Regions from separate parts of the Homo sapiens genome. Here regions 1 and 3 are each linked to region 2. The links come from fine-mapping of genetic effects on gene expression. A gene starts in region 2. Each other region holds a variant in brackets. All regions are shown on one strand. Distances are from middle to middle. Region 1 overlaps CATSPERG (catsper channel auxiliary subunit gamma). Region 2 holds the start of PPP1R14A (protein phosphatase 1 regulatory inhibitor subunit 14A). Region 3 holds the start of DPF1 (double PHD fingers 1).

The links.
Region 1: its variant is fine-mapped to the expression of PPP1R14A in whole blood (TOPMed, PIP above 0.99).
Region 3: its variant is fine-mapped to the expression of PPP1R14A in whole blood (TOPMed, PIP above 0.99).

What each region holds. Positions count from the first base shown.
Region 1 is chr19:38,362,183-38,372,725 of GRCh38, reverse strand. It overlaps CATSPERG (catsper channel auxiliary subunit gamma), which reads right to left. Exons shown (of 29, transcript NM_021185.5): 18 at 10,454-10,516; 19 at 10,152-10,350; 20 at 9,894-10,012; 21 at 7,755-7,835; 22 at 7,609-7,665; 23 at 5,414-5,570; 24 at 5,154-5,217; 25 at 4,950-5,045; 26 at 4,589-4,678; 27 at 2,662-2,754; 28 at 2,468-2,567; 29 at 1,783-2,200. The coding sequence ends at 1,934. Among named protein-coding and RNA genes, the nearest start is that of PSMD8, 7.1 kb to the left of the region's middle. RefSeq lists a silencer at 9,988-10,067 and an enhancer at 9,800-10,543. The variant T/C (reference allele first, on the strand shown) is at 5,835.
Region 2 is chr19:38,251,665-38,262,207 of GRCh38, reverse strand. It overlaps PPP1R14A (protein phosphatase 1 regulatory inhibitor subunit 14A), which reads left to right and starts at 5,834. Exons shown (of 4, transcript NM_033256.3): 1 at 5,834-6,069; 2 at 9,234-9,314; 3 at 9,870-9,902. The coding sequence starts at 5,869. RefSeq lists enhancers at 1-81, 82-1,019 and a silencer at 5,855-6,042.
Region 3 is chr19:38,220,307-38,230,849 of GRCh38, reverse strand. DPF1 (double PHD fingers 1) reads left to right here and starts at 6,628. Exons shown (of 12, transcript NM_001135155.3): 1 at 6,628-6,736; 2 at 8,142-8,302; 3 at 8,386-8,493. The coding sequence starts at 6,708. RefSeq lists silencers at 871-1,250, 6,294-6,863 and an enhancer at 2,601-3,371. The variant C/G (reference allele first, on the strand shown) is at 7,522.

The DNA of each region.
Region 1 (10,543 bases), 110 kb before region 2:
GTGGCGGGTGCCTGCAATCCCAGTTACTCACTCGGGAGGCTGAGGCAGGAGAATCACTTGAACTTGGGAGGTGGAGGTTGCAGTGAGCCAAGATCGCACCATTGCACTCCAGCCTAGGCAACGAGCAAAACTCCATCTCAAAAAAAAAAAGAAAAAGACACAAATAAACAAAATACCACGTTGATATGGCCAGGCCAGGTGGCTCATGCCTGTAATCCCAGCACTTCGGGAGGCTGAGGCGGGCAGATCACGAGGTCAGGAGATGGAGACCAGTCTGGCTAACACAGTGAAACCCCGTCTCTACTAAAAATACAAAAAATTAGCCGGGCATAGTGGCATGCGTCTGTAGTCCCAGCTACTCAGGAGGCTGAGGCAGGAGAATCGCTCGAACCCAGGAGGCGGAGGTTGCAGTGAGCCGAGATCACACCACTGCACTCCAGCCTGGGTAACAGAGCGAGACTCCATCTCAAAAAACATAAATAGTTTCAAGTATGAGGGGAAATCCAGTCTCTGTCACTCTATCTTGGCTGGAAGTGCAGATGGTGATATTTAAATAACATGTTGACTTGGCTGATACAGGATTATGATGTGTTCACCTGGACCATGAGGTGACTCGGTAGAATCTTGGTGGTGGAAACAACCTTAGCCAGCAGCCCTTACACACATGAGTGTTGCCAACTCTTGTTATTGTCAAATTTCATCAGGTTTTTGTGCTACCAACCATGCCTAGTCAATGCCAACCCCAATGTATTCCTCCAACCCAACACTCTGGGTGAGCACCAACTAGGTGCAATCTCATACCTTTCCTCATTCGCTCCTTCATTCATTCATCTATTAATGCTGACCAAATGCCTACCATGCAACAGGGTATTTTTTTACTCATTTATTTCCTCCTGCCTTCATTCCTCCATCTTGTCAATTCATTGGTCACTACGCATCCATCCAGATTATGGACTGTATAACTAGCCTCAGATGGTGAGGGGAGTTGTCCTGAGGTCAGAGACTGCACTCTGAGGAGGACAGAGAAGAAAAAACTACAGAGAAATGAAGGCTGAATCCTGTGGACCTTGGGACTTTGGATCAAACTGTACCTGAAGCCTGTAAATTACCATTTTCATGTAGACCATTTGAGGGAAATATTTGCTACTTGCAACTAAAATAAGAATCCTGACGTCTCCAGGGTCCCCTCCTTAAGACATTAGATAGGTGTTGACATTCAGAATATTTAACACTGAACAATCAGAACAGATGGTCGGCCATAGCAATGGGCCTGGATTGTGGAGGATCCTGCTGGACCACAGGGAGGTCTGGGGTACACTGGGGAGAGGCTCAGCCAACAGGCACACAGAGAAGCCACTATTTAACAGGTGGCCTAGAAGGTTTTTGATATTTTATTTATTGTTTTGTTTTGTTGAGTCGGAGTCTTGGTCTGTTGCCCAGACTGGAGTGCAGTGGCGCAATCTTGGCTCACGGCAACTTCTGCCTCCCAGGTTCAAGGGATTATCCTGTCTCAGCTTCCCAAGTAGCTGGAATTACAGGTACGCACCACCATGCCCAGCTAATTTTTTGTATTTGTAGTAGAGACAGGGTTACGAGTTTTCACCATGTGGGCCAGGGTGGTCTCAAACTCCTGACCTTAAGTGATCTGCCTCCTTCGATCTCCCGAAGTGCTGGGATTACCGGCATGAACCACCATGCCCAGCCAGGTTTATGATATTTTAATGTGCAGCTATGCTGGTACAAACCTTCTGAACTCGAGCTTTTAAGAGAGCCCACTGCTGGTCCTGAAAAAAGGCTTTATTTGAGTCTGAACGAGAAGTAAACATCAAGCAAAACAGAAAGAGAGGCCTGGGCTGGGTGACAGGTTGCATCTTCAAGATGGGCCTCATAAGAGAGGCGTGACAGTAACTGGGGGCTGGGGCAGGTGGGACACTCAGGTCATCAACTGTCTCTCCACGGCTTCCTTGGGTTCAGCCCTGTCCTCTGTCATCCTGGAGCTGAACATGGAGCCCATCCTGGAATGTCTCAGAGACGGCATGCTCGAGATTCCGGAAATGGAGGCGTAGGTGTAGTAGGATTCTGAGGCAATGAGGTTGTTTATCTTCCACCGGATCATCGTGCAGCCCTTCACCACGAGGGGCCACAGGAGGCAGAAGGCGATGTAGAAGATCACCAGGCCCACAAACACGCTAGCTGACACCTGCAGGGAGCAAAGAATGAGTAAGGAGTTGGCACATGATAAGGTACACAGTCCACAATCTGCATCCACAGTGACAGGGAAATTGACAGATGGAGGCATGACAGCAGGAGGAAATGAATGAGTAGACAGCCTGTGGCATGGCAGGCGTTCAGTCAGCATGGCTAGATGAGTGAATAAAGGAATGAATGAGCGAAGGTATAACAAGCATAGGTATGGAGGCGTGGGCCCCTGCCCACCCAGTAGGGCAGCTCCCGGACAGCCACTCACCATGATGATGAAAAGGGCCCGCTTGGGACTGAGTGGCAGCCCGTGGATGTGCAGCAGGAAGGTGAGCTGGTAGTTGCAGTAGGTGCTCGTGTCCACTCCTCTGCAGGGGTTGGGAGGGGATCCAGGATTAGAGGAGAAGCCAGGCATTCCATGGGCAGCCCCTGACCCGCACCTGGGCCACTTGCCTGGCTCACCTATTGCTCACCAACACCTTGAAGAAGAATTCAGGGGCAAAGATGCCTTGGGGAACATTGTCATAGCATGGGGCATTCTCCAGACAGAGCCACCTGCAAGCCAAAGATCAGGCAGTTGTGCTACCAACCATGCCTAGTCTGTGCCAACTCCCAATTTCTTCCTCCACCCAATGTTTTCGGTGAGGACCAAATGGGTGCAATCTCATGCCTTCCCTCATTCATTCCTTCATTCACTCATTCATTCATGCTGACTGAACGCCTACTGTGCCACAGGTTGTCTACTCATTCATTTCCTCCTGCCTTCACACCTCCATCTGTCAATTCCTCTGTCACTGTGCATCCATCCAGATTACAGGCTGTGTATCTATCATATGCCAAATCCTTATTCATTCTTTGCTGCTTGCATTCCTTTATCCCATAAATATAGCTTGAGCACTTACTAGGTACAAAGTCACATCTTTCATTTATTCCCTTCTTTATTCATTATCCAATAAATGCAGGTTAGGCCAGGCATAGTGGTTCACACCTATAATACCAGCACTTTGGGAGGCCGAGGCAGGTGGATCACTTGAGGTCAGGAGTTCAAGACCAGACTGACCAATATGGTGAAACCCCGTCTCTACAAAAAATACAAAAATTAGCGGGGCATGGTGGCATGCACCTGTAATCCCAGCTACACAGGAGGCTGAGTTGGGAGAATTACTTGAACCCAAGAGGCAGAGGTTGCAGTGAGCTGAGATTGTACTACTGCACTCCAGCCTGGGTGACGGAGCAAGACTCTGTCTCAAAAAAATAAATAAAAATAAAAAATAAAGCAGGTTAAATTCTGACTAGGTGCAAGTTGTTCGTTCATTCACTGCCTTCATTTGCTCATGGCTTCATTTTTTTCCTTTCATTGAATGAAACTTACTGAGCCCCTATATATGAATTTGTTTCTCCATTGTTTTATTCATTCATTAATACCCCCATTCAGATATCAATAAATGCCTGCCACGAATTGATTTATTCATTTGTTCATTCTTTCATTCAATACATGCTATGTTAACCAGCCTGGCCAACATGGTGAAACCCCGTCTCTACTAGAAAAAAAAATACAAAAATTAACCGGGCATGGTGGCATGTGCCTGTAATCCCAGTACTTTGGGAGGCTGAGGCAGGCGGATCACCTGAGGTCAGGAGTTCAAGATCAGCCTGACCAACGTGGTGAAACCCCATCCCTACTAAAAATACAAAAATTAGCCAGGCATGGTGGCGGGTGCCTGTAATCCCAGCTACTTGGGAGGCTGAGGCAGGAGAATTGCTTGAACCCAGGAGGCAGAGGCTGCAGTGAGCTGAGATTGTGCCACTGCACTCCAGCCTGGTGGGCCACAGAGGGAGCCTGTCTCAAAAAATAAACAGGAGGCTGAGACAGGAGAATCGCTTGAACCTGGAAGGTGGAGGTTGCAGTGAGCTGAGATCTTGCCACTGCATTCCAGCCTGGGCAACAAAGAGCAAAACTCCATCTCAAAAATAAAAACAAATTTATGAGTCTATTCAGGACCCAGTTCTGGAGGAGAGACAGACCCCACACCAGACAGTGACTGCCCAGAGCTGTCCACTCTGGGATGGGGACGCACAGGTAGGGGGCTCAGGGCCAGGATGGGAGAGCCCCAAGAGGCCATAGGAGCCATGAAGGGACAATTGTCCCATCTTGAAACAGAAAAGTCCTCCTGGCTGAAGGGGCATCTGCCTAAGGCCTGAAAAGAGTCGGAGGGAGCAGCATTCCAGGCAGAGACTTCAGCTTGTGCAAAGTTCAGCCCCATTTAAGTAACACAAAGGCAGTCAGTGTGACTTGGGGATCAAGAGGCCTCCTAGGGGCAGAAAGGATAGGTGGGCCCAATGGACTACCGACAGATGGGGGCCAAGAGGGGCCAGGCTACGCACTCACTCGATGCCTGGGCTCTCGTGGGACATGATGTGAAAGGCTGAGTCTTTGGTGGTCCTTGTGGTCCTCGTGGTCCAGATAAGGCTGTTGGTCCTGTGCAGGCCCAGGTCATCTCAGCCAGGGGTTGGGGGGCGGTGTAGGGGAGGTATGACCTCAGTGGTCAGTGTGGAGGGAGGCCACAGGTGGGTGCAGGGGACATGGTGTTAGGGGCGGGCAGGAGTTTGCCTGTGAGATCCTAAGAGCCCCACTGTGGGCAGGGCCTGAGACGCAGAGGTGGGGGCTTGCGAGGTGGGCTTGGCTTGGAAGTGGGAAAGGCCTCCAGGGGAAGCAAGGTGGATTACACGTGGGACCCCACGGGGATTACTTGTCCAGGGGGCTGTTGAAGCGGTAGATTTCGTCCTCACTGTAGTCCTTGAGGCTGTCCAGTGTGGGCCCGCCACCCACCACCAGCAGAACATAGCTACCAGGGACAGAAGTGCACACAGACTGGCCTCCGGGTCTCGAGTCCTGCACCCATCTCCTTCCACTCCCTCCACCTGCCCTAGCTGCAAGCTGGCCACGCCTTTACCTGCCCTGGAAACTGCCGGAGTCTCCTGTCACCAAATCTTGAATCAAGAAGAAGGGGTAGAAAACTATGGGGTTGGAGGGGATTGAGACCAGAAGAAGAAATTAGCTTGGCCCGAGAAGCTGAGGACCGAGACGGGGGAAAGTGAGATGCCGCAGGAAAAAGGGTGGGTAGTCTGCGGGGAGAGGAATGGGGAGGGAGAGCACAAAGTAGTGGGGGCAAGAGGGCAGTGAACTGTGCAGGGGAAGGGACTGGACACACACTGTCCCGGAAGAGAAAGCAGGGCATCTCCGGGTTCACGTTAACGCAGTCAAAGTAGTGTTTGTTCTTCAGGCGGCTGTATTCCAGCGTGTAGGTGATGTCGAAGGCCAGGCGCTTGCCTGGGGGGCAGCCAATGAACACTGGCACCATCAGGTTGCCCTCGGTGGGAGGAAAAAAGGCTCACAGGGGTGGCCAGGGTCTCCTCAGGCCCCTGGAGGGGTAAGGGGCAGGAAGGACAGTCCCCCTCCCACAAACACCACCACCAGCTGCCTGGCTCTCCCTCACCCCCAAGGGCAATATGGTCATTAATATCATTAACACGGCCTGGTGCAGTGGCTCATGCCTGTAATCCCAGAACTTCGGGAGGCCGAGGCGGGCTGATCACTTGAGTCCAGGAGTTCGAGACTAGCCTGGCCAGCACAG[T/C]AAAACCCTGTCTCTACTAAAAATACAAAAAATTAGCTGGGTGTGTGGTGGTGCATGCCTGTAATCCCAGCTACTCGGGAGGCAGAGGCTGGAGAATCGCTTGAACCAGGGAGGTAGAGGCCAAGACTGCACCACTGCACTCCAGCCTGGGTGACAGAGCAGGACTCTGTCTCAAAAAAAAAAAAAAAAAGACCGAGAGCCTGCCTGTTCTCTCCCCTAAACCTCCAACTCCTTTGCCCCCACCCTGTTTTGTCCAACCTTGTCTCTTCCAGAGTCTCCCTGCTTCCAGTCCCCTCATTGATGTCCCCCCACCCCATGCAGCCAGATGGGCCCTGGGGACACCCGAGTCCCTCCTCTGCTTAGAGCCCTCCCGAGGAGCCAGCTCACATACCATGGCCCATAAGGGCTCCGCTTACTCTGCCCCATCACTGCTCCGAGCTCATCCCACCACGTTCCCCCTTGCCCACCCTGATGCAATCACACTTCCTCCTTGTTTATTCAGTCTAGCACATGAAATCTCATGTACTCTAAGGAGGTGGGGGCTGTTACAACCCCTTTTGACTGCCCAAGGTCATTCTAAGCCAGGAGGGAGGAACACCAGGATCTGCATGCCAGGGAGTGGGTAGGGAAATGGGTGAGAACAAGAACTCTGGGGCACGCCCCTCCTCTACCACTTATTAGCTCCCTGGGTTACTCTGCACCTCTCTGAGCCTCAGTGTCTGCCCCGGGCAAAGGCGATATCACGTGTATAAGCAAGTGAAGCACCAAGCACCCAAAGAACTGAATGAGGAATGTGTGAGTGGGCAGAAGAAGAGAGAGATGTGAAAGCAGGGCCAGGCCAGCCCTTATGCCACCTTTGTGCCAATTGCAAAAAGTGGCCCTAGGTCGGGCACGGTGGCTCACACCTGTAATCCCAGCACTTTGGGAGGCCAAGGCCGGCAGATCACCTGAGGTTAGGAGTTCAAGACCAGCCTGGCCAACATGGTGAAACTCCGTCTCTATTTAAAATATAAAAAATTAGCTAGGCATGGTGGTATGCAACTGTAATCCCAGCTACTTGGGAGGCTGAGGCAGGAGAATCGCTTGAACCCGGGAGGTGGAGGTTGCAGTGAGCCGAGATTGCACCATTGCACTCCAGCCTGGGGGACAAGAGTGAGACATCGTTAAAAAAAAAACAAAAAACAAAAAAAAAACGGCCCTGTTGCTCACTCTATTCTCCCTCTGAAGAAAAGTTATCAGAGGGAACATACCAGTTTGTGTGCAACCTGCACAACTGGGAAGGTGGCCCTTTCTGAAAACGTGAATGAATGAAAGGAGTTAGGCCGGGCATGGTGGCTCACACCTGGAATCCCAGCACTTTGGGAGGCTGAGGCGGGTGGATCATTTGAGTTTAGGAGTTTGTGACCATCCTGGCCAACATGGAAAAACTCTGTCTCCACTAAAAATACAAAAAATTAGCCAGCCGTGGTGGCGGGCGCCTATAATCCCAGCTACTTGGGAGGCTGAGGCAGGAGAATCACTTGAGCCAAGGAGGCAAAGTGAGCCAAGACCGCGCCGCCGCACTCCAGCCTGGGCAACAAGAGTGAAACTCCGTCTTAAAGAAAAAAGAATGAAAGGAGTTAGTGGGTGGTAGTGGGTGGGTGGATGAATGTTGAGAAAGAATGAGAAGAAAGGAAATTATGAATGCATTAGTGGGATTCTCAGGGGGATTAGCCCTGTTGAGACCCGACCCCAACCTTCCCCTCCCAGGGCCCAGTATCCCAAGCTCCAATACTTGCATATGGGGCCCCAGGTGTGTTTCCTGGAAGCAGAGCCCGGATGAACCCACCACCTGTGGGTAGGAGCAGGTGAAGATGGTGATCCCCGCCGGCCCAGGCTTTCCCACCATCCTGCACCCTCCCCTCCAGGCTTGGACCTCACATTGACCGTCATGGAAGTCTCCATAAGGTGATGTCCACTAATGCCTTGGTCATAGCAAAGCTTTTTATCCTTGAGCGTAATCTGGGGTTGAAGGAGGGGAGAGGCAGAAATGAAGGGGTGAACAGGTCTCCCCAAAGTCCAACAAACAGTTCAAATAACCCATAGCTGGGGCGAGGTGGTGGCTGGTAGGAAAACGGAAGGCTGCCATTTTCTACTCAGGAATAGGCTAACGGGGTGTTGGCCGGGCTGGTCTCCAGCTCCTAACCGCGAGTGATCCGCCAGCCTCGGCCTCCCGAGGTGCCGGGATTGCAGACGGAGTCTGGTTCACTCAGTGCTCAATGGTGTCCAGGCTGGAGTGCAGTGGCGTGATCTCGGCTTGCTACAACCTCCGCCTCCCAGCCGCCTGCCTTGGCCTCCCAAAGTGCCAAGAGTGCAGCCTCTGCCCGGCCGCCACCCCGTCTGGGAAGTGAGGAGTGTCTCTGCCTGGCTGCCCATCGTCTGGGACGTGAGGAGCCCCTCTGCCTGGCTGCCCACTCTGGAAAGTGAGGAGCGTCTCTGCCCGGCCGCCCATCGTCTGAGATGTGGGGAGTGCCTCTGCCCCGCTGCCCCGTCTGGGATGTGAGGAGCGCCTCTGTCCGGTCGCGACCCCATCTGGGAGGTGAGGAGCGTCTCTGCCCAGCCGCCCTGTCTGAGAAGTGAGGAGACCCTCCGCCTGGCAACCGCCCCGTCTGAGAAATGAGGAGCCCCTCCGCCCGGCAGCCACCCTGTCTGGGAAGTGAGGAGCGTCTCCGCCCGGCAGCCACCCCGTCCTGGAGGGAGGTGGGGGTCAGCCCCCGCCAGGCCAGCCGCCCCGTCCGGGAGGGAGGTGGGGGGGTCAGCCCCCCGCCCGGCCAGCTGCCCCGTCCGGGAGGTGAGGGGCACCTCTGCCCGGCCGCCCCTGCTGGGAAGTGGGGAGCCCCTCTGCCCGGCCACCACCCCGTCTGGGAGGTATGCCCAACAGCTCATTGAGAACGGGCCATGATGACAATGGCGGTTTTGTGGAGTGGAAAGCGGGGAAGGGTGGGGAAAAGATTGAGAAATCGGATGGTTGCCGTGTCTGTGTAGAAAGAAGTAGACATGGGAGACTTTTCATTTTGTTTTGTACTGGGAAAAATTCTTCTGCCTTGGGATCCTGTTGATCTGTGACCTTACCCCCAACCCTGTGCTCTCTGAAACATGTGCTGTGTCCACTCAGGGTTAAATGGATTAAGGGCGGTGCAAGATGTGCTTTGTTAAACAGATGCTTGAAGGCAGCATGCTCGTTAAGAGTCATCACCACTCCCTAATCTCAAGTACCCAGGGACACAAACACTGCGGAAGGCCCCAGGGTCCTCTGCCTAGGAAAACCAGAGACCTTTGTTCACTTGTTTATCTGCTGACCTTCCCTCCACTATTGTCCTAGAAACACCCAAGAATGATCAATAAAAAAAAAAAAAAAAAAAAGGAATAGGCTAACGGGGCCAAGCACAGGGTGGTTCATGCCTCACACCTCACACCTCACGCCGAGGCATGAGGATCTCTTGAGTCCAGGAATTCGAGGCCAGCCTGGGCAACATAGGGAGACCCCCGTCTCTACAAAAAATAAAAAGTTAAGGCTGGGTGCAGTGGCTCACGCTTGTAATCCCAGCACTTTGGGAGGCCAAAGTGGGCAGATTATTTGAGGTCAGGAGTTCAAGACTAGCCTGGCCAACATGGTAAAACCCCATCGCTACTAATAATACAAAAAATTAGCTGGGTGTAGTGGCATGCACCTGTAATCTCAGCTACTAGGGAGGCTGAGGCAGGAGACTCGGTTGAATCTGGGAGGCAGAGGTTACAGTGAGCCGAGATCGTGCCATTGCACTCCAGCCTGGGCGACTGAGCAAGACTCCGTCTCAAAAGAAAAACAAAAAGTTCACTGGGCACTGTGGTGCGTGCCTGCAGTCCCAGCTACTCAGGAGGTTGAGGGAGGAGGATCGCTTGAGCCCAGGAGGCCAAGAATGCAGTGATCGCTCCACTGGCACTCCAGCCTGAGCGACAGAGCAAGACCCTGTCTCCAAAAAAAAAAAAAAAAAAAAAAAACAAAACCTCCCTTGATCCCAACTCCCCGGGGGGCCTCACCGAAAATAGCACCGAGTTGCGATTAATCAGGACCTCCTGCTTCACCGAGGCCTCGATGCAGCCGGGGTCGGCCAGCACCACGCCCACGTCCACCTGGCTATGCAGCTGGAAGGCGGTGCCTGCTCCGGGCAGTAAACGGGGTTAAGGCCTCCCTCACAGACAGGCCCCGCCCCTCCGATGGTGTCCCCGCCCCCCAGGCTCCCAGATTCTGGTAGCCCTCGCCCCGCCCTTCGGGCTCCACTCTGGTCCCGCGCAGACCGAGTTCTGACTGCGTCCGGAACGAGTGGCCCTGCGCCGACAGGAAGATGGCGAAGCTGTACTCAGTGCCCTTGTCCAGGAAAATGCGCTCCGGCAGCTCGTACGCGGACTCGAGGTTGTAGATCTTTTCGTAGCTGTCCATTTCTATGGACACGCCGCCCGCGCTTCGCCAATTGCTCGCCAAGAAGAAGTAGTAATCCTGGGGTACCGGATGCGCGGGGCAGAGTCAGCGCCGGGGGTGGGGCACGGTGAGGGGTGTCCGGGCGCCGCCCCTTTCCCGGCTCCCAATCCGCTCCGCCTACCTGGTCTTGTTTGTTGTTCGCCCACCAGCGCCAGGTGGGGTCGTGCACCGGGTCCGCGTACGGCTGCAGGGATCGCCCGGCACCGTGAAG
Region 2 (10,543 bases):
AAAAAAAGAGGCCGGGCTCACACGCCTGTAATCCCCAGCACTTTGGGAGGCCTGGGCATCTCCATATCTGTCCTGAGAAACATTCCAAGCATCAACATTCCTGATGCTTGGAATGTTTGTCCCTTGGCCTTTATCATCCTTCAGAGTTCATTAAAAAGAGGTGGCTCACGCCTGTAATCCCCAGCACTTTGGGAGGCCGAGGTGGGCGGATCACGAGGTCAGGAATTTGAGACCAGCCTGGCCAACATAGTGAAACCCTGTCTCTACTAGAAATACAAAAATTAGCCGGGCGTGGTGGCGCGCGCCTGTAGTCCCAGCCACTGGAGAGGCTGAGGCAGGAGAATCGCTTGAACCCGGGAGGTGGAGGCTGCGGCGAGCCGAGATCGCCCCACTGCACACCAGCCCGGGCGACAGTGTGAGACTTCGTCTCAAAAAAAAAAAAAAAAAAAAGAAGGGCCGGGTGCGGTGGCTTATGCCTGTAATCTCAGCATTTTAGAAGGCTGAGGTGGGCGGATCACGAGGTCAGCAGATGGAGACCATCTGGGCTAACACGGTGAAACCCCGTCTCTACTGAAAAAAAGTACAAAAGACTAGCCGGGCGTGGTGGTGGGCGCATGTAGTCCCAGCTACTTGGGAGGCTGAGGCAGGAGAATCGCTTGAACCTGGGAGGTGGAGTTTGCAGTGAGCCGACATTGCGCCACTGCACTCCAGCCTGAGCGACGGCGCGAGACTCGTTCTCAAAAAAAAAAAAAAAAAAAAAAAAAAAGAGGCCGGGCGCGGTGGCGGGCGCCTGTAGTCCCAGCTACTCGGGAGGCTGAGGCAGGAGAATAGCTTGAATCCGGGAGGCGGAGGTTGCAGTGAGCTGAGACTGCACCACTGCCCTCCAGCCTGGGTGACAGAGCGAGACTCTGTCTCAAAAAAAAAAAAAAAAAAAAAAAAAAAAACACCAAAAAAAAAACCTTGACAGTAGGCCAGGCGTGGTTGGCTCACACCTGTAATCTCAGCACTTTGGGAGGCCGAGGCGAGCGGATCACCTGAGGTCGGGAGTTCAAGACCATCCTGACCAACATGGAGAAATCCTGTCTGCTAAAAATACAAAATTAGTCGGGCGTGGTGGCGGATGCCTGTAATCCGCGCTACTCAGGAGGCTGAGGCAGGAGAATCGCTTGAACCTGGGAGGTGGAGGTTGCAGTGAGCTGAGATAGTGCCATTGTACTCCAGCCTGGGCAACAAGAGCGAAACTCCGTCTCAAAAAATGAAACAAAAACAAAACAAAAAAAAAACCGACAGTAATTGCATCAATTGTTTTTTTCCCCCTTTTTTATATTGCATCAATTGTTTAGAAAGCAGACCACCAAAAGGTTTTTGTTTCTGTTTCTTCCCTGGGGAGGACTATTTTATCATTGACACTGTTTAGAAATGTCACTGCAAAGTAAAATAAAAATTAGACCAACTTTTGGTCAGTTTTTTTGAAATGGAGTCTCACTCTGTCTGTCGCCTAGGCTGCAGTGCAATGGCACGATCTTGGCTCATCGCAACCTCCACCTCCCGGGTTCAAGCGATTCTCCTGCCTCAGTCTCCCAAGTAGCTGGGATTACAGGCTTGTACCACCACACCCGGCTAATTTTTGTATTTTTATGGAGATGGGGTTTCACCATGTTGGCCAGGCAGGTCTTGAACTCCTGACCTCAGGTGATCTGCCTGCCTTGGCCTCCCAAAGTGCTGGGATTACAGGCATGAGCCACCATGCCCGGCCTTGGTCAGCTTTTTATTTTTAAATTCTCTACAGACAGTGCACCCTCTTTTTGCCTGTACCCAAAGTGGACCAGTCCTGTCCCCCTGCCTTTAGTATGCTACTAGTTGGGAAACAGACAATAATTTTTTTTTTCTGTCACTGCACAGAACAGAAAATATGACATTTTTCTTTTTGAGACAGGGTCTCACTCCATCACCCAGGCTGGAGTGCAGTGGTGCAATCACAGTTCACTGCGTCCTCCATCTCCTGGACTCAAGTGATCCTCCCAACTCAGCCTCCAGAGTAACTGGGACTACAAGCATGTACTATTGCACCTGGCTTTTTTTTTTTTTTTTTTTTTTTGTAGCGACAGGGTCTCACTATGTTGCCCAAGCTGATCTTGAACTCCTGGATGTAATTGCTCCTCCTGCCTCAGCATCCTATAGTGCTGAGATTACAGGTGTGAGCCACCACGCCTGGCATGGACAATACATTAAATGAGTACATTATATATAATGTTAGAGGCCAGGCATGGTGGCTCATGCCTGTAATTCCAGCACTTTGGGAGGTCAAGACGGGCAGATCGTCTGAGGTCAGGAGTTCGAGACCAGCCTGACCAACATGGTGAAACCCCATCTCTACTGAAAATATAAAAAGTAAGCGGACACAGTGGTGTATAACTGTAGTCCCAGCTACTCAGGAGGCTGAAGCAGGAGAATCTCTTGAACCCAGGAGGCAGAGGTTGCAGTGAGCCATGATCACAATACTATACTCCAGCCTGAGGTGACTCCAACTCAAAAAAAAAAAAAAAAAAAAAAAAAAAAAAAAAAAAATATATATATATATATATATATATATAATGTTAGAAAGTGGTAAGTGTTATGTATCAAACAGAGCTGGATGAGGGGCACGAGAGTTGCAGTGTGAAATAGCGTGGCCAGGGAAGACCTCACTGAACAGTGACATTGGAGGGAGGTGAAGGAGTGAGCCCTGATGATATTCTAGGGAAGAACCTTCCTGGCAGAGGGAACTGCGAGTGAAAGGTGCTGGTGCTGAAATGGGACTGTCCCTGGCAGAGATGGGACTGCTAAACCAGAGTTTGGCCTTTAGACTGAAGGTCATGGGTAGCTATGGATAGTTGTTTTTTATTTTTGTTTTTTTAGAGATGGGGTCTTTCTCTGTCGCCCAGGCTGGAGTGTGATGGCACGATCTCAGCTCACTGCAGCCTCCGCCTCCCAGGTTCAAGCAATTCTCCCACCTCAGCCTCCTGAGTAGCTGGGATTACAGGGGTGCACCACCATGCTTGGCTAATTTTTTTTGCATTTTTAGTAGAGACGGGTTCACCATGTTGGTCAGGCTGGTCTCAAACTCCTGACCTCAGATAATCCACTCACCTCAGCCTCCCAAAGTGCTGGGATTACAGACGTGAACCATGGCGCCTGGCCTGTTTTTAATTTTGAAATAAAACAGCTTTATTGAAGCCGGGCACGGTGGCTCACGCCTGTAATCCCAGCACTTTGGGAGGCCTAGGCAGGTGGATTACCTGAGGTCAGGAGTTCAAGACCAGCCTGGCCAACATGGTGAAACCCCGTTTCTACTAAAAATACAAAAATTAGCCAGGCGTGGTGGCACACCCCTGTAATCCCAGCTACTCGGGAGGCTGAGGCAGGAGAATTGCTTGAGCCTGGGAGGCAGAGGTTGCAGTGAGCTGAGATCATGCCAGTGCACTCCAGCCTGGCCAACAGAGCGAGATTCTGCCTCAAAAAAAAAAAAAAAAAAAAAAAAAAACACAGTCTTATTGAGATATAACTCACATACCATACAACTCACCCTTTATTTATTTAGAGATGGAGTTTCACTTTTGTTGCCCAGGATGGAGTGCAATGGCATGATCTCAGCTCACTGCAACATCCCCCTCCCAGGTTCAAGCGATTCTCCTGCCTCAGCCTCCTGAGTAGTTGGGATTATAGGCATGTGCCCCCATGCCCAGCTAATTTTTGTATTTTTAGTGGAGATGGGGTTTCACCATGTTGGCCAGGCTGGTCTCTAACTCTTGACCTCCGATGATCCATCCGCCTTGCCCTCCCAAAGTGCTGGGATTACAGGCGTGAGTCACTGTGCCTGGCCCAACTCACCTTTTTAAAGTGTATAGTTTGGCCAGGTGTGGTGGCTCGTCCCAGCACCTTATGAGTTTCATGACTGCAATTTTTTTCCTCCCATTCCATGGGTTGTCTCTTCACTTTCTTGATGATGTTCTTTGAAACTCAAAAGTTTTACATTATGGCTGGCTGGTGGAGTGAGGTGGCTCATGCCTATAATCCCAGCACCTTGGGAGGCCGAGGTGGGAGGATCGCTTGAGCCCAGGAATTGGAGAACAGCCTAGGCAACATAGGGAGACCCTGTCTCTACAATTTTTTTTTTTTTTTTTGAGATGGAGTCTTGCTCTGTCACCCAGGCTGGAGTGCAGTGGTGCGATCTTGGCTCACCGCAATCTCTGCCTCCTGGGTTCAAGCAATTTTCCTGCCTCAGCCTCCCCAGTAGCTGCAATTACAGGTGCACACCACTACGCCTGGCTTTTTTTTTTTTTTTTTTGTATTTTTAGTAAAGATGGGGTTTCATCATGTTGGCCTGGCTGGTCTTGAATTCCAGACCTCGTGATCTGCCCACCTCGGCCTCTCAAAGTGCTGGGATTACAGGCATGAGCCACCATGCCTGGCCTTTTTAAAAAAATTATTTATTATTATTTTATTTATTTATTTATTTTGAGACAGAGTCTCGCTCTTGTTGCCCAGGCTGGAGTGCAATGGTGCTATCTTGGCTCACTGCAACCTCCACCTCCCGGGTTCAAGCGATTCTCCTGCCTCAGCCTTCCGAGTAGCTGGGATTACAGGCATGTGCCACCAGGCCCAGCTAATTTTTGTATTTTTAGTAGAGATGGAGTTTCACCATGTTGGCCAGGCTGGTCTTGAACTCCTGACCTCGTGATCCACCCTCCTTGGCCTCCCAAAGTTCTGGGATTACAGGAGTGAGCCACTGCGCCCAGCCACATTTAAATTTTAGAGTATAATTATTGCTGCTTATAATTAGAAGTGAGAAGACTGTTTTGAAGTAAGGGACTTCCCTGGCCACCCTCGCTAAAATTGCAACCTTACCCTCACTCCATTTCTCCTTCTCTGCTTTATATTTCTCCAAAGCACTTATATGATAATAAACTGTATAATACCGTACTTACTGTGTTTCTCATGTATCCCGGCTACAACTGTCAACTGCGTGGGACTGGTTTTGTCTGTTTTGTTCCCTGCTCTATCCCTGGAGCGTAAAGCAGTGTCTGGTATAGAGTGGATACTTAATAGATATTCGTTGAACCGGGCCAGTGGCGGTGGCTCACGCCTGTAATCCCAGCACTTTGGGAGGCGGAGGCAGGCAGATCACTTGAGGTCAGGAGTTCGAGGCCAGCCTGGCCAACATGGCGAAATCCCGTCTCTACTAAAAATACAAAAATTAGCCGGGTGTTGTGGTGCATCCCTGTAATCCCAGCTACTTCGGAGGCTGAGGCAGGAGAATCGCTTGAACCTGGGAGGCGGACGTTGCGGTGAGCCGAGATCGCGCCATTGTACTCCAGCCTGGGCGACAAAGAGAGACATCGACTCAAAAAAAAAAAAATTCGTTGAACGGAATGAGTGAACAAACAAATGGATGGATGAGTGAATGAATGAACGAAGGAACAAGTGACCGCTCGACCTTCTACAGCGACAGCGGCGCAGGCGCTCCCGCACCAACAGCCCCCCACCCCGCCACCGCCAGAGGGCGCAGACAGGCCGGGTCCCGAGTGTCTGTCCCAGGCCCCCGCCCCACAGGATCCCGGCCCGGGAGCCCCCGATGCAGGGACCCGCCCGGGACTCTGGGTCCCCGCCCATACCTCAACTTCGCACGACTGCGTGCCTCAAGCCGACGCAGCGGCCTACTCTCGCACTGCAGACGGGGAAACTGAGGCCTGAGGCGGCCGGGGTGGGGCAGACCTCCCGGCGAGCCCGAGCCCCCGCCCCCGGCTAGCCCCGCCCTGGCCCGTAAGAAGCACCCGGGGCGCGAGGCGAAGGCGCACAGCGCGGGGCCAGGCTGGGTCCAGCAGCGCGATGGCAGCTCAGCGGCTGGGCAAGCGCGTGCTGAGCAAGCTGCAGTCTCCATCGCGGGCCCGCGGGCCAGGGGGCAGTCCCGGGGGGCTGCAGAAGCGGCACGCGCGCGTCACCGTCAAGTATGACCGGCGGGAGCTGCAGCGGCGGCTGGACGTGGAGAAGTGGATCGACGGGCGCCTGGAGGAGCTGTACCGCGGCATGGTGAGCCCGGGGAGGGCTCGGGGGTGGTCGGGGACAGATAGAGCCCGGGCGCGGAGACCCCACGCCCTTGGGGTCTCGGTGCACACTCGCTGGTGCACGGCCAGCCTGGTCTGCACAAGAGGACGAGCGCCCCAGGGCCGGGCACTCATTGGCCTGGCCATCCGTGCTCTATGGCATTGTGCTTGTGGACACACCGAGAGCAACACACAAAGACTTGGGTCTCCAGAGATGTGTCCAAACGCCTGTGGAGGGCCAGGGGTTTAGCATGAGGAGGGAGGAGGCTAAGTTGAGCTGAAACCGCCACGTCTGGAGAAAGAGTGGGGGAAGGGGGGTGTCATAAAGCCAAACACAGACATGGTGACAGGGGAGATACAGCCACACAGAGACCCACGGCAAAGGAAGCAAAAGCAGACACAGATGTGCACAGTGAAGGAAGCTATAGCCACTCACGGACACAGCCCAGAAGTAACAGCCATGCACAAACCCACAAGGACACAAGCGGGGGCTGGGGGGGGGTCACCTACAGTTCAACATATGCTACAGTCACAGCCACCCGCAGACACAGCGGCATGGGCCACAGCCGTAGGCAGACACAGCACAACCCCACTGGAACACAAAATGACTCAAGTTACGGCCCTTCCTTATCTCCTAAAGAAAAAACTGACCACCTTCAAGCACAAGCGCTGATCCGCAGCCACTCAAAGACATAAAACAACAGAAATTGGCCCAGCACAGTGGCTCACGCATTTTGTGAGGCCGGGGCAGGAGGATTGCTTGACGTCAGGAGTTCAACACCAGCCTGGGCAACATGGGGAAAACCTGTCTCTACCAAAAATCTTAAAACTTAGCCGGGCGTGGTGGCATGCACGCACTTGTAATCTCAGCTCCTCAGGAGGCTGAGGTGGGAGGATTGCTTGAGCCTGAGAGGCCAAGGTCACAGTGAGCCAAGATTGCACCACTGCACTCCAGCCTGGGCAACAGAGCGAGACCGTGTCTCAAAAACAAACAAAACCCAACAGAATTTATAACTACACCCAGACATAAAACTGTGTAAGCACCGGGCACGGTGGCTCACGCCTGTAATCCCAGCACTTTGGGAGGCCGAGGCGGGCGGATCACCTGAGGTCAGGAGTTTGAGACCAGCCTGATCAACATGGAGAAATCCCGTCTCTACTAAAAAATACAAAATTAGCCGGGTGTGGTGGCACATGCCTGTAATCCCAGCTACTCGGGAGGAGAATCGCTTGAACCCGGGAGGAGGAGGTTGCGGTGAGCCGAGATCCCGCCATTGCCCTCCAGCCTGGGCAACAAGAGCGAAACTCCGTCTCAAAAACAAACAAACAAACAAAAAACTGTAAGCTATAGGAACAGGTGGACATACAACTGCAGAACCCACCGCTGCTCACAGGCACACAAGAGCCTAAGCCACAGCTACATGTATTGACACACACAGGTACTTCATCACTTGAGTTTCTGCTTGAAGTCACACTTTCAGTGACTTCTTTTTTCTTTTCCTTAGAGGTGGGGCCTCATTGGCCGAGCACAGTGGCTCACGCCTGTAATCCCAGAACTTTGGGAGGCCAAGGTGGGCAGATCACTTGAGGTCAGGAGTACGAGACTAGCCTGGCCAACATGGTGAAACCCTGTCTCTACTAAAATTACAAAAATTAGCCGGGCATGGTGGCAGGCAGCTGTAATCCCAGCTACTTGGGAGGCTGAGGCAGGAGAATCACTTGAACCCGGGAGGCGGAGGTTGCAGTGAGCCAAGATCGCGCCATTGTACTCCACCCTAGGTGACAGAAGGAGACTTTGTCTCAAAAAAAAGAAAAAAGAAAAAGAGATGGGGCCTCGCTATGTTGCTCAGGCTGATCTTGAACTCCTAGGCTCAAGCAATTCTCTCTTGTCGGCCTCCCAAAATGTCAGGATTACAGGCGTGAGCCACTGCGCCTGGCCTTCTGTGACTTCTGTATGCTACAGTGTACACAGGACCCACGAGTCCTCCTCTTCATGGTGCGACAATGGTGGAAGGCATGGCCCTTCTCCCATGGTGACATGCAGTCCCTCTGTTCTCAGACTCACACCTGGGCCCATACAGGTGAACCAATCTGGTTGCTAGTGGCAGGTGGCATCTATGAGGCCATTCTCAGGTGGTGGGCCCCACAGCTGACTGTGGACACATGCTGATGTGTCACACACCCAAGCCAGAGCCACACACCTCACACCTGCAGGACCACAGTCCACTATACGAAGCCACTGCACGATGCCAGGTCCCTCTGCATCCTCGGCCAGCCCCAGGCCCTTGGCATCAGGCTGTGGCCCTGGCAGAGACTCACACACCTGTGTCCTTGCTGAAGCCCCTTCACCACACATGAACCAGGACCATCCAGCCCTGAAGCCCCAGGCCTGAAGCCGACAGCCGGACTTTGGGTTGGGGAGGAAAGGATTCATAACCCCAAGGCTCTCTTGCTCCCTCGACAGCTGGGGACAGCTGGGTCCTATTCCCAGCAGGGGTACTGAGCCAGCCTGCGCTTGGGCCACTGCCTGTAGAGGCCACACTCAGCGCCCCGCTCTTAGCAGCTGAGTTGAGCCATGACTCATCCCACCCACCCACCTTGAGGGGCCTCGGTGGTCCTCCCTTCGGTCTCACCAGGCTGCATTTTGGCCCTCTGGGGGCTGGCCCAAGCCGTCCCCTCCCTTCCTGTCCCCTCCCTTCCTGTCCCCTGGGGGAAGGGGCCGCCCCAGCTGGCTGCTGGCTGCCAGCCTCTCCTCCCCTGCACCTAGTGCTAAGACTTTTCCTTGAAAGGGCAGAAGCCAGCTCCTCTCCCGAATCCCAGAATCTGACATTCCAGGACTCCACTAGGCCTGTTTTCCTCTGTGGGAACTAGAGCCAAGGCGAGAGACCCGTGCCAGCCCCGAGGCTCCCGGGGCCCATGGGCCCAGGCATCGGGCTGGTACAGGGCCCCGGGGCTCTCTCAGCCCATCTGTCACCCCTCCCCCCCAACACCCAGATGTCCCGTCTTGGCAGTGCTGTCCCGGACTGCCACATTAATGCTCCAGAACCCGCCAGCTGGGCCCTGGGGCCGGTGGGGCTCCTGCAGAGCCCTGGACAAAGGCGAGGGAGGGAGGGAAGGGGATCCTAAGCACCCCTCCCTCCCTGGCCCTAGGAGGCAGACATGCCCGATGAGATCAACATTGATGAATTGTTGGAGTTAGAGAGTGAAGAGGAGAGAAGCCGGAAAATCCAGGTAGGTGGGGGGACGTGTCCCCCAGCCTCCCACTTTGCACCTCCCTAAAAATAATAGCAATAGTTCACGTGTTTACTGAGTGCTCACTAGATGCCGGGCACTGGTGTGATGGCTTTACATGTATTCACTCACTTAACCCTCACAAAACCCTCCGAAGCAGGCGCTAGTGTGAGCTCCATTTTCCCCATGAGGAAAATGAGGCCCAGAGAGGTTGAATCCCTTGCCCAGTGTCACACAGCTCAGAAGGAGCAGAGCTGGGCATCGAACCCAGGCAGTTTGGCAGCCATGTCTTTGCTTATGGCTTATACCTTTTTAGAGGAGGGAAGTGCTGTGTGACCCTCTCGCCCTCTCTGGATCTAGTAACTCACCCCTGCCCTGAGTCGATCCACATGCCCCTTGGGCTCTGTTCCTCTCTTGAAGCTTGGTGGGCAGTCCACCCTGGAGTCTGACTTCCATTTGTCTTGCTGCTGGGGCCTTTTGGGAAAGGGAAGGGGCTGGAGGGGAGTAGGTGTTAGTCATTTACTGTTTTGTTTTGTTCTTGGTTGGGGGTTTTAGGGACTCCTGAAGTCATGTGGGAAACCTGTCGAGGTGAGTTTTCTCTCCCTCATTCTCTCCCTGTTCTGGCCCCAAGTACTCTGATGGGGGAGGGGGAAGAAGCTGGCAGAAGGGTCTCTGGGGAACACCACCCGGCCCCACCACCCCCGGCCCCAACCTGCCCTCCGCAGCTCTTTCTGGTCTCCAGGGGTGTCTTTTGTCCTCCTACTTGTCTCTCTCCCTCTCTCCCCCATCTGCTGAGGGGGCTCCATTCTGTCCTCCCCCATCTGCCCTGTTTTTGCCTCTCCTGTGCCTGTCCTTTGGCCACCAGCCTTCGGGCTCAGTCTCCCTCTGTCCTCCCCTGTCACTGCCTCCGCCACCCCGGGCTCCCTTCCCCACCTCTGGGGGCCCTCCATCCTCCCAGGCCCTGAAGCTGAGCGGCCCAACCCCTCCCACTTCCTTCCCTGCTTTAAAAGGGAAAACTATTCATGTTTCTCCAACTAGCTCTAGGGACAAACGTCATTGCATTTCTGTTCGCCCTGGATCTATCTCTGGGGACCTGTCTCCACATGTCTCTGTTTCTTTCTCTGTCCTTATGTCTCTCTCTGTCTCTATCTCTACATGTCTCTCTGTTTCTGTGTCTGTTTCTCCCCCTCCCCCACTCCGTATCTGTCTCCTTGGATCTCTATCTCTCT
Region 3 (10,543 bases), 31 kb after region 2:
CAGCCTCCTGAGTAGCTGAGACTCCAGACATGCATCACCACACCCAGATAATTTTTAAACTTTTTGCAGAGATGGGATCTCACTATGTTGCCCAGGCTGGTCTTGTGCTATGGGGCTCAAGCAATCCTCCTGCCTCAGGCTCCCAAAGTGCTGGGATTATAGGTGTGTGCCTGGACTCTTCTCTTTTTCTTTTTCTTTCTTTCTCTCTCTCTCTCTCTCTTTTTTTTTTTTTTTTTTTTGAGACAGGGTCTCGCTCTGTCACCCAGGCTGGAATGCAGTGGTACAATCTCGGCTCACTGCAATCTCTGCCTCCCAGGCTCAAGTGATCCTCCCACCTCAGCTTCCTGAGTAGCTGGGACTACAGGCATGCACCACCACACCCAGCTAATTTTTTGTATTTTGGGTAGAGACGGGGTTTCGCCATGTTGCCCATATTGGTCTTGAACTCCTAAGCTCAGATGATCCACCTGCCTTGGCCTCCCAAAGTGATGGGATTACAGGCCTCCCAAAGTGATGAGCAACCACGACTGGCCCCATTTTCTTTTCTTTATAGCACCTTTCACTGTCTGAAATGATTTTATCTATTTATTTTCTTATTATCTGTCTTTCTCCACTAGAATGTCAGCTCCTTGAGAGCGGCAACTTTGTTTTGGTCATTGCTGTATCCCCAGTGCCTAGAAGAGTTCCTGGAACACAGCAGGCACTCAGTAAATGAACAAAGGCACTGATTAACCCCTGTGCTTGTTCACAGGCTGTCCGACATAGAAGAGACACCCAAATAGGCCTAGACAAGAATACACGACAGACCCTAGGGTCATCCACATACCCTGGGGACATCTAGAAGCTAGGGACCACCTGCTTCCGCGCCCGCGGTGCCTGGAGGGTGGAGATCCCGAGTTGGAGACCGAGCACTCCCAGGGAGGGAGGAAAGATGCTCTGGGGGGAGCCCCGCCCCTCCCTGTATCCCCAGCAGCCAATGGGAGCGCGGTCCTCCTGACGCCCCCTGGGACGTGTAGTCCGGGCAGGGGCGCCCTCGGGCGCCGCCGCGCGCCCCTAGACTCCACGTCCCGTCGTGCGCTGGGAGGCGCGGGGATTGGCTGAGCCCCGCCCCCGGCCCGCCCCGCTCCGCTCGCGCCGCAGCCCCAAGAATGAATGAAATCGTAGCGCGCTGGGCGGCAGAGCGGGCGGCGCAGGCCGGGCTGGGCCCGCGCGCGGCGGCAGCGGCGCCCCGGGCCGGAGGCGGCCCAGCCGAGCGGGCCATGGCCACCGCCATTCAGAACCCGCTCAAGTCGTGAGTGTCCCTGCCGTCCCCGCCCCCTGTCCAGACCCCCCCACCAGGAGCCCTTCCCCCGCCCGCCCTGGGGCTGAGGAGGGGGACGCAGCGCGCGGACCGTAGTTGAATGGGGGCCCCCAGCGCGAACCCTTGCCCCGGGGGTCCCCACCCCCTGTCGCCCCCTGGGGTTGGGGGCGGGAGCCCCTCCAGGGTCGCGGGGGCGCCTCTTCTTTGTCGCTGTCAGTGAAGGAATGCGGCGCGGGCTGGGGGTGGCGGAGGCCGTTTCCCCACCCAGAGTGGGGGTAGGGGTTTCCCTCTCCTCCATCTCTCCCTCAGGGTCTCCGGAGGTGCCGGGCCTGCCCCGGCCGGGGCTGAAAGCTCGAACACCTAAGTCCGGACCTCGGTCTCCAGGGTTTCCATCACCCGCTCTCCGCTCATCAAAGCGCCTTTCTCTCTTTCCCCTTCTTTCTCTGAGGACCCCGGCCCTCGCGGCCGCAGGGTGGGAGCTGAGACGTCGGGGGTCCCCAGTTCCATCCCCGCTGCCTCCCCTTTTTCCTCCCGGGATCCCGGGAACTGGAAGCCCCGAACCCGCCGTCAGTCTGGACCGCGGCATCCCTCCCTCTCCCCGCGCATACACATCAAACGGGAGCATCTCTGATCCCTTTGGGGACCGGCTGCCCAGGAGGGGGTGCCGGGAGCGCCCTCGGTCTCCGGGGATTCCCTCCCTTTCTCCCTGGCCGCGGTCCTCCGAGCGTTCGCCTCTTCCCGGGCCCGGTGGCTGGGAATCCGGAAGCCTGGGTCCGAGCCTGGCCCCTCCTGACCCTCTCCTCTCCTTGCCATCCCTCGCGCTCTCCACACCTCCCCTTCCCCCTCTCCATCTCGCTCTTGCTTCCTCTTCGGGATCCCGGACTCCACGTCCCAGCGCTCCCCACCCCCCGTTCCCAGGCGGTGACAGCGGGCTCCAAGTGACAGGCACTCGGCCGCTCCCGCCCTCCCTCCCCGCAGGCGAGCGAGGCGCTCCCCTCCCCCTCCTCCCGGGCCTGGTGGAGGAGGCGGAGGGCGAGCGCCCGCGGCGTCGCACAAAGGGGCCGGGGCGACCTCCCCCACCCTTCCCCCAACCCCGTGCGCTGGCTGCCTTGACCTTGAACATCGAGGGCTGGGGGCGGGGGTGGGGGGTGGGGGGAGAGAGGGAGAGAGGGAGCGCCCCCCTACCCCACCCACGAGAAGGGATGCGCCTGCTGGCTGGACCAGAGGCCGCCAGTTGCTTCTGGTTTCTGGCGGGAATGGGGGTGGGAGGTGGAGGGTGGGAGTTGGGAGAGGAAGGGGGGCAGGGACTTAGAGGCAAGCGCCTACACGTGTGGCTTCGCCGTGAGCAGGGTGCCGGGAGCGGGTGTGTGGGGCTCGGGTCCGTGTGAGGTGGTGTATGATGGTGACACCCCTCTGCTGCCCTCTCACCCTAAGTGGCACACACAGACAGCTGTCTCTCCTGTGAGGGGACATCCGCAAAATGGCTGGGAACGGGGCTCTTGTGCAGGTTGGTGGATCTACAGGCGATGGGGCCCCTCACCCTGACCCTGGCCCAGACCCCTGGGAGGAGGTGTGCTACAGCCGTGAGCAGGGGCCCAGCTACAGTAAGCCTGGACTGGGAGGGCCCTACCCCTCTGTGCCCTTCCCTTCCAAAAGGTCTCTGTGGGGGTGAAGGTGGGGACTCCCTGGCTCCTGAAAGAATGTGAGTCAAATCCCCTGGGGAGAAGGAGCTGCAGGGTGCCGCCCTCGGAAGTTCCGACTGCCTGAGTTCCAAAACCAGCTTGAGCCACGAATGTTCCCTGCCGTGAGCCTCAGTTTTGCCATCTGTGTATGGGGGCTTCTAACAGCCCTTACCACCCGATGGGACTGTCGTGGGGCTAAGGCCATCTTTGTAAAGCAGTTAGCACAGAGACTGACACTGACCAAATGTAGTGATTATTATTAGTAGTATCAATATTGATTTATGAAATTGATTTCTACTGTGGGCCAGCTCCCACACAGGGCATTGGGGGATGGGGCAGGAGGATTGTTTGGGCCAGGGAGAGGACTGGGAGTTCAAGTGTGTAGGAGAGTATGTGGGAGTGGTGTGTGCAGGTGGTTAGGGCAGAAGGAAAGAAAGGAGAGCCCGCTGCAAGTGTCAGCCTGCGTCTGTGGGTAGATATCCTGCTGGTGGGCCGGGCATGGTGGCTTATGCCTGTAATCTCAGCACTTTGGGAGGGCAGGGTGGGCAGATCACTTGAGCTTAGGAGTTTGAGACTAGCCTGGCCAACACAGGGACACCCTGTTTTTACAAAAATACAAAAATTAGCCGGGTGCGGTGGCACAGGCCTGTAGTCCCAGCTACTTGGGGGTTTGAGGTGGGAGGATCGCTTGAGCCTGGGAGGTGGAGGCTGCAGCGAGCTGTGTTCATGCCATGGCACTCCAGCCTGGGCCATCGAGTGAGACGCTGTCCAAAAAAAAAAAAGAGAAAAAGAGAAAGAGGAAAGAAAGAGAAGAAAAGAAAGAAAGAAAGAAAGGAAGGAAGGAAGGAAGGAAGGAAGGAAGGAAGGAAGGAAGAGAAATAAAAGAAGAAAAGAAAAGAAAGAAAAATAGAAATTCTGCTGGTAGAGGAGGACTGTTAGGAAGGTCTGCACTCAGTGTCTACACTCGGGCTTCTCTTAATCAAATCGACATGAGAGTTTGGGGTGGGGCAGGAGTGAGTCTGCGTGTCTGAGGCTAGCGGTGTGGGAATCAAGTGTAAGAGGGTGTGTTACGGGACCTGTGAGCTAATGGGAGGTGAGAGAGGAAGGTGGGGTCACAGCTCACCGTGGGTAAGGTGTGAGGTGGCCACTATAGGGCCCTGGAGGCCAGAGTGATCGTAGGGGTGTCAGTGCCCCTCACTTAATCCCCTTGTCACCACTCCAGGCCATATGTGAATCAGAGACCTACCTCCTGTTCCAGGAGAGGGGCCGGCCAAGACCTTACCTGGCTTAGATGGGCGAGTTTGTGGAAAGGGTCTAAGACTAGAGGAGTGTGTGTGTGTGTGTGTGTGTGTGTGTGTGTGTGTAGAAGTGACCGTGAGTGTAGGAGGCCTTGACTGGATCTCTCTCTTGGGGGGATTTCAAGTGACAAAAATGGTGAAGGCTAGCGGGCCACTTCTGTCGGCTGGGGCGCCCCCTGGTGGATGAGGGCGTTTGTGGGCGTGTTAATTACAGCAGCCGCCCAAATTTGAATGCTGGCTCTACAGGGGTCCGGGTGGAAGAGGGGAAGGGGAAAGGGGGAGAAGGGGTGGGAAGGGGAAAGGGGGAGGAGGGGTGAGACGGGAGGGGGGACGGGGTGGTGGTGTTGCAGAGAGACTGGGTCAGTTTGTGACTCAGTGGGTCTGCTCACTCCCTGGGGATCTCTTCGGGTGGAGTCAGTGTGGGTGACAGTGGGAGAGAGAAGGAGGTCAGGACTACTTGGGGAGGGCCGTCAGGGGTGCCTGCCTCCTTCCTTCAGTCTTACCTTCAAAGAGCCGCCAGGGCATGCGGGCATGTGAGGTTACCTTCCTGTGCCTCAGATTCCTCACCTGGAAAATGCAGATAATAAAAGCATCCCGGGGTGAACTGTGCCCAGCACATGATGGGTGCATTTACTCATTCAACAAATATCTACTGAGCATCTATTTTTTTTTTTTTTTTTGGAGACAGGGTCTTGCTCAGTTGTCCAGGCTGGAGTGTAGTGGTGTGATCATAGCTCACTGCAGCTTCGATCTCCTGGGTTCAACCAATCCTCCTGACTCAGCCTCCTGAGTAGCTGGGACCATAGGCATGTGCCACCATGCCCAGCTATTTATTTTTTTTTTAGTAGAGACCAGGTCTCGCTATGTTGCCCAGGCTGTTCTCCTGAGCTCAAGCGGTCCTCTCATCTCAGCCTCCCAGATTGCTGGGATTACAGGCATGAGTCACGGCGCCCTGCTTACTTAGTTTTTTGTTTGTTTGTTTGTTTGTTTGTTTGCTTTTAGAGACAGAGTCTCGCTCTGCCACCCAGGCTGGAGTGCAGTGGTGAGACCACAGCTCACTGCAGCCTCAGCCTCCCAGGTTCAAGCTATCCTCCCACTTTAGCCTTGCAAGTAGCTGGGACTACACTGCTGCGCCATCATGCCCAGCTAATTTTAATTTTTTTTTGTAGACACAGGGGTCTGGATATGTTGCCCAGGTTGGTCTCAAACTCCTGGGCTCAAGCAGTGCTCTCATCTAGGCCTCCCGAAGTACTGGGATTGCAGACTGGAGCCATCGCACCTGGCCGCATTATTCTTTCTTTCTTATTATTTATTTATTTATTTTTGAGAGGGAGTCTCACTCTTGTTGCCCAGGCTGGAGTGCAATGGCACGATCTCAGCTCACTGCAACCTCCACCTCCTGAGTTCAAGTGATTCTCCTGCCTCAGCCTCCTGAGTGGGGGAGTATAAGCATGCGCCACCATGCCCGGCTAATTTTGTATTTTTAGTAGAGACTACTACCATGTTGGCCAGGCTGGTCTCGAACTCCCATCCTCAGGTGATCCACCTGCCTGGGCCTCCCAAAGTGCCGGGATTACAGGTGTGAGCCACTGCGCCTGGCCTGCCAGTCACCTCTTAAAATGCTTTACCTATATTTACTCATTTAATCCTCACAACACTCCAGTGAGGCATCATCCTCTTTTTACAGATGAGGAAACTGAGGCCCAGAAAGGTTAAGTCATTTGCCAAGGTCACATGGCCACCAAGTGGCAGAGCTAGGATTTGAACCCTGGAGGTGTGACTACTGTTTCTAACCTGCACTGCTGCTGTCAGGCCTGCAGAAGGCGTTGAGCAGGGCGGGGTGACCGTGAGCGTGGCTGCTGGGAGAGACAGCCCCGGGTGGGGTCTCTGGAGCCAGGAGGGACTTGGGTGGGGGGCGGTGAGGGGGTGTCTGCTGGAAGCATGTTGGTGAGAAGTCTGTGTGGGCACCTGGGAGGTGTCTCTGCGTCTCTTAGTATTGCAGTGTGTGTGCGTGTGGCTGTGTGAGTCCGTGCGAAGGTGTGTGAGTAGGAGTGTGTGGGAGGCTGTGAGTATCCGCGTGAATGTGTGTGTAAACTGCCATGCGTGGGCGTGTGCGAGTCCAGGTGTGCATGTGGTTGTGTGCACGCGAGAGCAGGATATGTGGACGAGTGAGGGCGGGTGAGTGACGGTGCGTGCCCCGGGCCCCTCCTCCGCGCCGTCCCGTCCCCGCGGGGTCCCGGGGGCCCCCTGGCCTGGGACTACCACTCCCAGCATGGCCCGGGCGGGCCCGCCCCGTCGCCGCGATTGGCCGTGGCCCTCGTGCTCCCGCCCCCCGGGAATGAATGGATGGGCGGCCTCAGCGCCCGCCCGACCGCTGGGAGGACCGACCCGGCGGGGACCTGCTGGGGGCAGGACCCGGGGAGCAAGATGGCCACTGTCATCCCTGGCCCCCTGAGGTGGTGCGGGCCGGCGGGAGGCGGAGAGGAAGCGCGGGCGGGTCTACGCGGGCCTGTGTGTGTGTGGCGACCGGGGGTGGGGCCGAAGGGGTGTCTGGGGGGCTGTCACCGAGTGCGGGGCTGCGCGGGGGTGCGAGAGTGTGTGACTGTGGGTCTCTGACAAGAATGGTGTCGGATGCACCGCTCCCTGGCGGGGTGGAGGGCGTGGGGGGCCTCCAGATTCTTTTTGGGGAAGGGAGACATCATCCCTTCCCTGCAACCCTCGGGTCTGGGAGAGACTGAAATGACCCGGGGGTGCGGGGGCCTTGGCAACTGGAGTGAAGTCCACACTACCTTTGTCTTGGGATGTGGAGTGTGTGTGTGTATCACTTATTTGTGTTCTGGTTTTTTTAAGAATTTTTGGGGGATAGGTGTGTGGACATGTGTCTGTTTCCTTTTATTCTGCACTAGATATCTTTGGATATTTGGGTCTCCCAGTGTGTGTCCGTGTCCTTTGGAACTATATGTCATTTGTCTTGTGTTCTGTGTTTTTGGGTATGTAGGGCTGCGTGTATTTGTGTGTAAATTTTTGTGTGACTATGGGTGGATTTGGCTGTTTCTGTGTTTTATATGTGTGTGTGTCTGTGTGGATGTGTGATATTTTAGATACTGGTTGCGCATCGTGCATCTTTGTAAATGTGTGTGTGTACCTGTGTGAATCTGTGTGATTTCTTTGTGTTGTGTGTCTGGATATTGTGTGTGTGGTTTGTGTTGTGTCTTTGGATACATGGGTAAGTGCCTAGGGG[C/G]GCAAGTGGTTTCTGTAGTTCCTGTCTTTTGACATGCTTGTGTCTTTGGATGCATGAGGGGGTGTATGTGTGTGTGGTGTGATGTTTCCATGTTGTGTGTCTTTGTGTGGGTGATGTGTTTCTGGTGTGTGTCTGTGGATATGTGATGTGTCTTTGTGCATGGTTATTTGTGTGATTTGTCTCCACACTATGGAACTTGGGATATTTGTCTTTTTCAGTAGATATTTATGTGTGCACGTGTGTGAGGTTTGTCTGTTTCTCCTTTGTGAGTATTGGGATTTGTCTCTCTTTGTGTGTGAATCCCGTGTGACTGTGTGTGATTTGTGTTGTGTGTCTGCATGTGTTCAGGTAGGGATACGTCCCGGTGTGTTTTTGTTTGTTTCTGTATCGTGTTTCTACTCATGAGCTGGGGGCCTGTTTGAGTCCCAGTTTGGGGGCCCCTGGGCCCTGTCCCCTTCCCCCAGCCTGGGTCCCGGAGTGGGAGGAGGGGAGAGGTGAGGCTGGAGGGGTCGGCCCACCCCTCCCGAGCCTGGGCGGCCCGGCAGCCGGGGAAGGGGTGCTGGGCGACCCTGTGCGCCTGCCCTTGCTGACAGCCGCCCGCCCGTTCGCCGCCCCTCTAGCCTAGGCGAGGACTTCTACCGCGAGGCCATCGAGCACTGCCGCAGTTACAACGCGCGCCTGTGCGCCGAGCGCAGCCTGCGACTGCCCTTCCTCGACTCGCAGACCGGCGTGGCCCAGAACAACTGCTACATCTGGATGGAGAAGACCCACCGCGGGCCGGGTACCGCCGGGAGGGCTGGCGCAGGGCGGGGCGGGGCCAGGCCGCCCCACCGCCGCCGCCCTCTCACCCCCCTCTCTCTCCAGGTTTGGCCCCGGGACAGATTTACACGTACCCCGCCCGCTGTTGGAGGAAGAAACGGAGACTCAACATCCTGGAGGACCCCAGACTCAGGCCCTGCGAGTACAAGATCGGTGGGTGCAGCCGCTGGGGCCCCCATCGGTGTCCCAGCGCCTGCTGTGTGTCCTAGCACTCGTCCATCACCTTTATCGCCTTCTAGCAAGTGTCTGCCTGGCTGGCTGTGTGTCTGTCTGCCCATGTGCGTCCCGGGTGTTTCCCAGAGATTCCACAGTTTCTCTGAGTCACTGAGTGGCGACTGCATCTCCTCCTACATGGGCCCAGGTGCCCAGTTGTTGTTATTTATTTATTTATTTATTTATTTATTTATTTTTGAGACAGAGTTTCACCCAGGCTGGCGTGCAATGGCGTGATCCCCCAACCTCCACCTAGCGGGGAGTTGAACCTTGAACCCGCAACTTCCGCCTAGCAGGTTCAAGCGATTCTGCCTCAGCCTTCCGAGTAGCTGGGATTACAGGCATGCGCCACCATGCCCGGCTGATTTTGTATTTTTAGTAGAAACGGGGTTTCACCATGTTGGTCAGGCTGGTCTGGAACTCCTGACCTCAGGTGATCTGGCCACCTCGGCCTCCCAAAGTGCTGGGATTACAGGTGTGAGCCACCGCGCCTGGCCTGTTGTTTTTTAAATAGAGGCAGGGTGTTACTATGTTGCCCAGTCTGGTCTTGAACTCCTGAGCTCAAGGGATCCTCCTGTCTCAGCCCTCCAAAGTGCAGGGATTATAGGCGTGAACCACCATGCCCCACCAAGGGTCCCAGTGGTATTGGAGGGCATAGTGATATCTGTTAGGTGTGTGTGGGTGTATGGAGTTGCTGACTGTGTCCCTTCCCCTGGGAACTGGGATGGATCAGTCTGCCTGTATTTTTTTTTTTTTTGAGATGGAGTCTGGCTCTGTCACCCAGGCTGGAGTACAGTGGCGCAATCTCAGCTCACTGCAACCTCCGCCTAGTGGGTTCAAGCGATTCTCCTGTCTCAGCCTCCTGAGTAGCTGGGATTACAGATGCACACTGACATGCCCGGCTAATTTTTTTGTATTTTTAGTAGAGACAGGGTTTCACCATGTTGGCCAGGCTGGTCTCGAACTCCTGACCTCAGGTGATCCACCTGCCTTGGCCTCCCAGAGTGCTGGGATTACAGGCTTGAGTCACCATGCCCGGCCATCTGCCTGTATTTTTTTCTGTGGGTGCCTGAGGGTGTCTGCCTCTGTATCTCCCCAAGGGCGTCTGGATGTCTCAGTGTCTGGTTGGAGCTCTTTCCTCTCTTAGGTGTATCTTCCCAGGTGTCTCCAAGTGTCTTAGAAGGCTTGTGTCTTGTGTATGTCTGGTCTGTCAGGGTGTCCGGCTCCTCCCGAGTGTGTCTGGGTGTGTTAGGCGGTGCGGCCGTCTCTTTCTGTGGGTGTGTGGGTGCCTCGGAGTGTCTGGGAGAATCTTCCTGATGGTGTCTGGCGTATCAGGTGTATTTCTGCACGTGTGTGCCAGTCCATCAGAGGATCTGGACTTACCCTTGAATGTGTTTAGGAATATCGGGATCCTCGGGGTCAGTTTCTCTTCCTGAGTCCGAGGGTCTGTGTGTACCCAGGAGCGTGGCAGTGCCCACCTGGCTGTGTCTCTTCCTGTCTGTCTCCTGTGTGTGTTTGTGTGTATCTAGCTGAGTGATTCTCCCTGAGTATGTCGGTATCTCCCCGCTATGTGTCCAAGCATCTCATCTGGCTGTGTCTTCCCCAGGGTCTAGGTGTATCTGGAGGGCTAATTGTTTCTTTCTTTTTTTCTTTTTTCTTTTTCTTTTTCTTTTTTTTTTTTGAGACGGAGTCTTGCTCTGTCGCCCAGGCTGGAGTGCAGTGGCGCGATCTCACTGCAAGCTCCGCCTCCTGGGTTCACGCCATTCTCCTGCCTCAGCCTCCCGAGTAGCTGGGACTACAGGCGCCTGCCACTACGCCCAGCTAATTTTTTGTATTTTTAGTAGAGACGGGGTTTCACCGTGTTAGCCAGGATGGTCTCGATCTCCTGACCTCATGATCTGCCCGCCTCGGCCTCCCAAAGTGCTGGGATTACAGGCGTGAGCCACCGCACCCGGCCTCTTTCTTTCTTTCTCTTTCTTTCTTTCTTTCT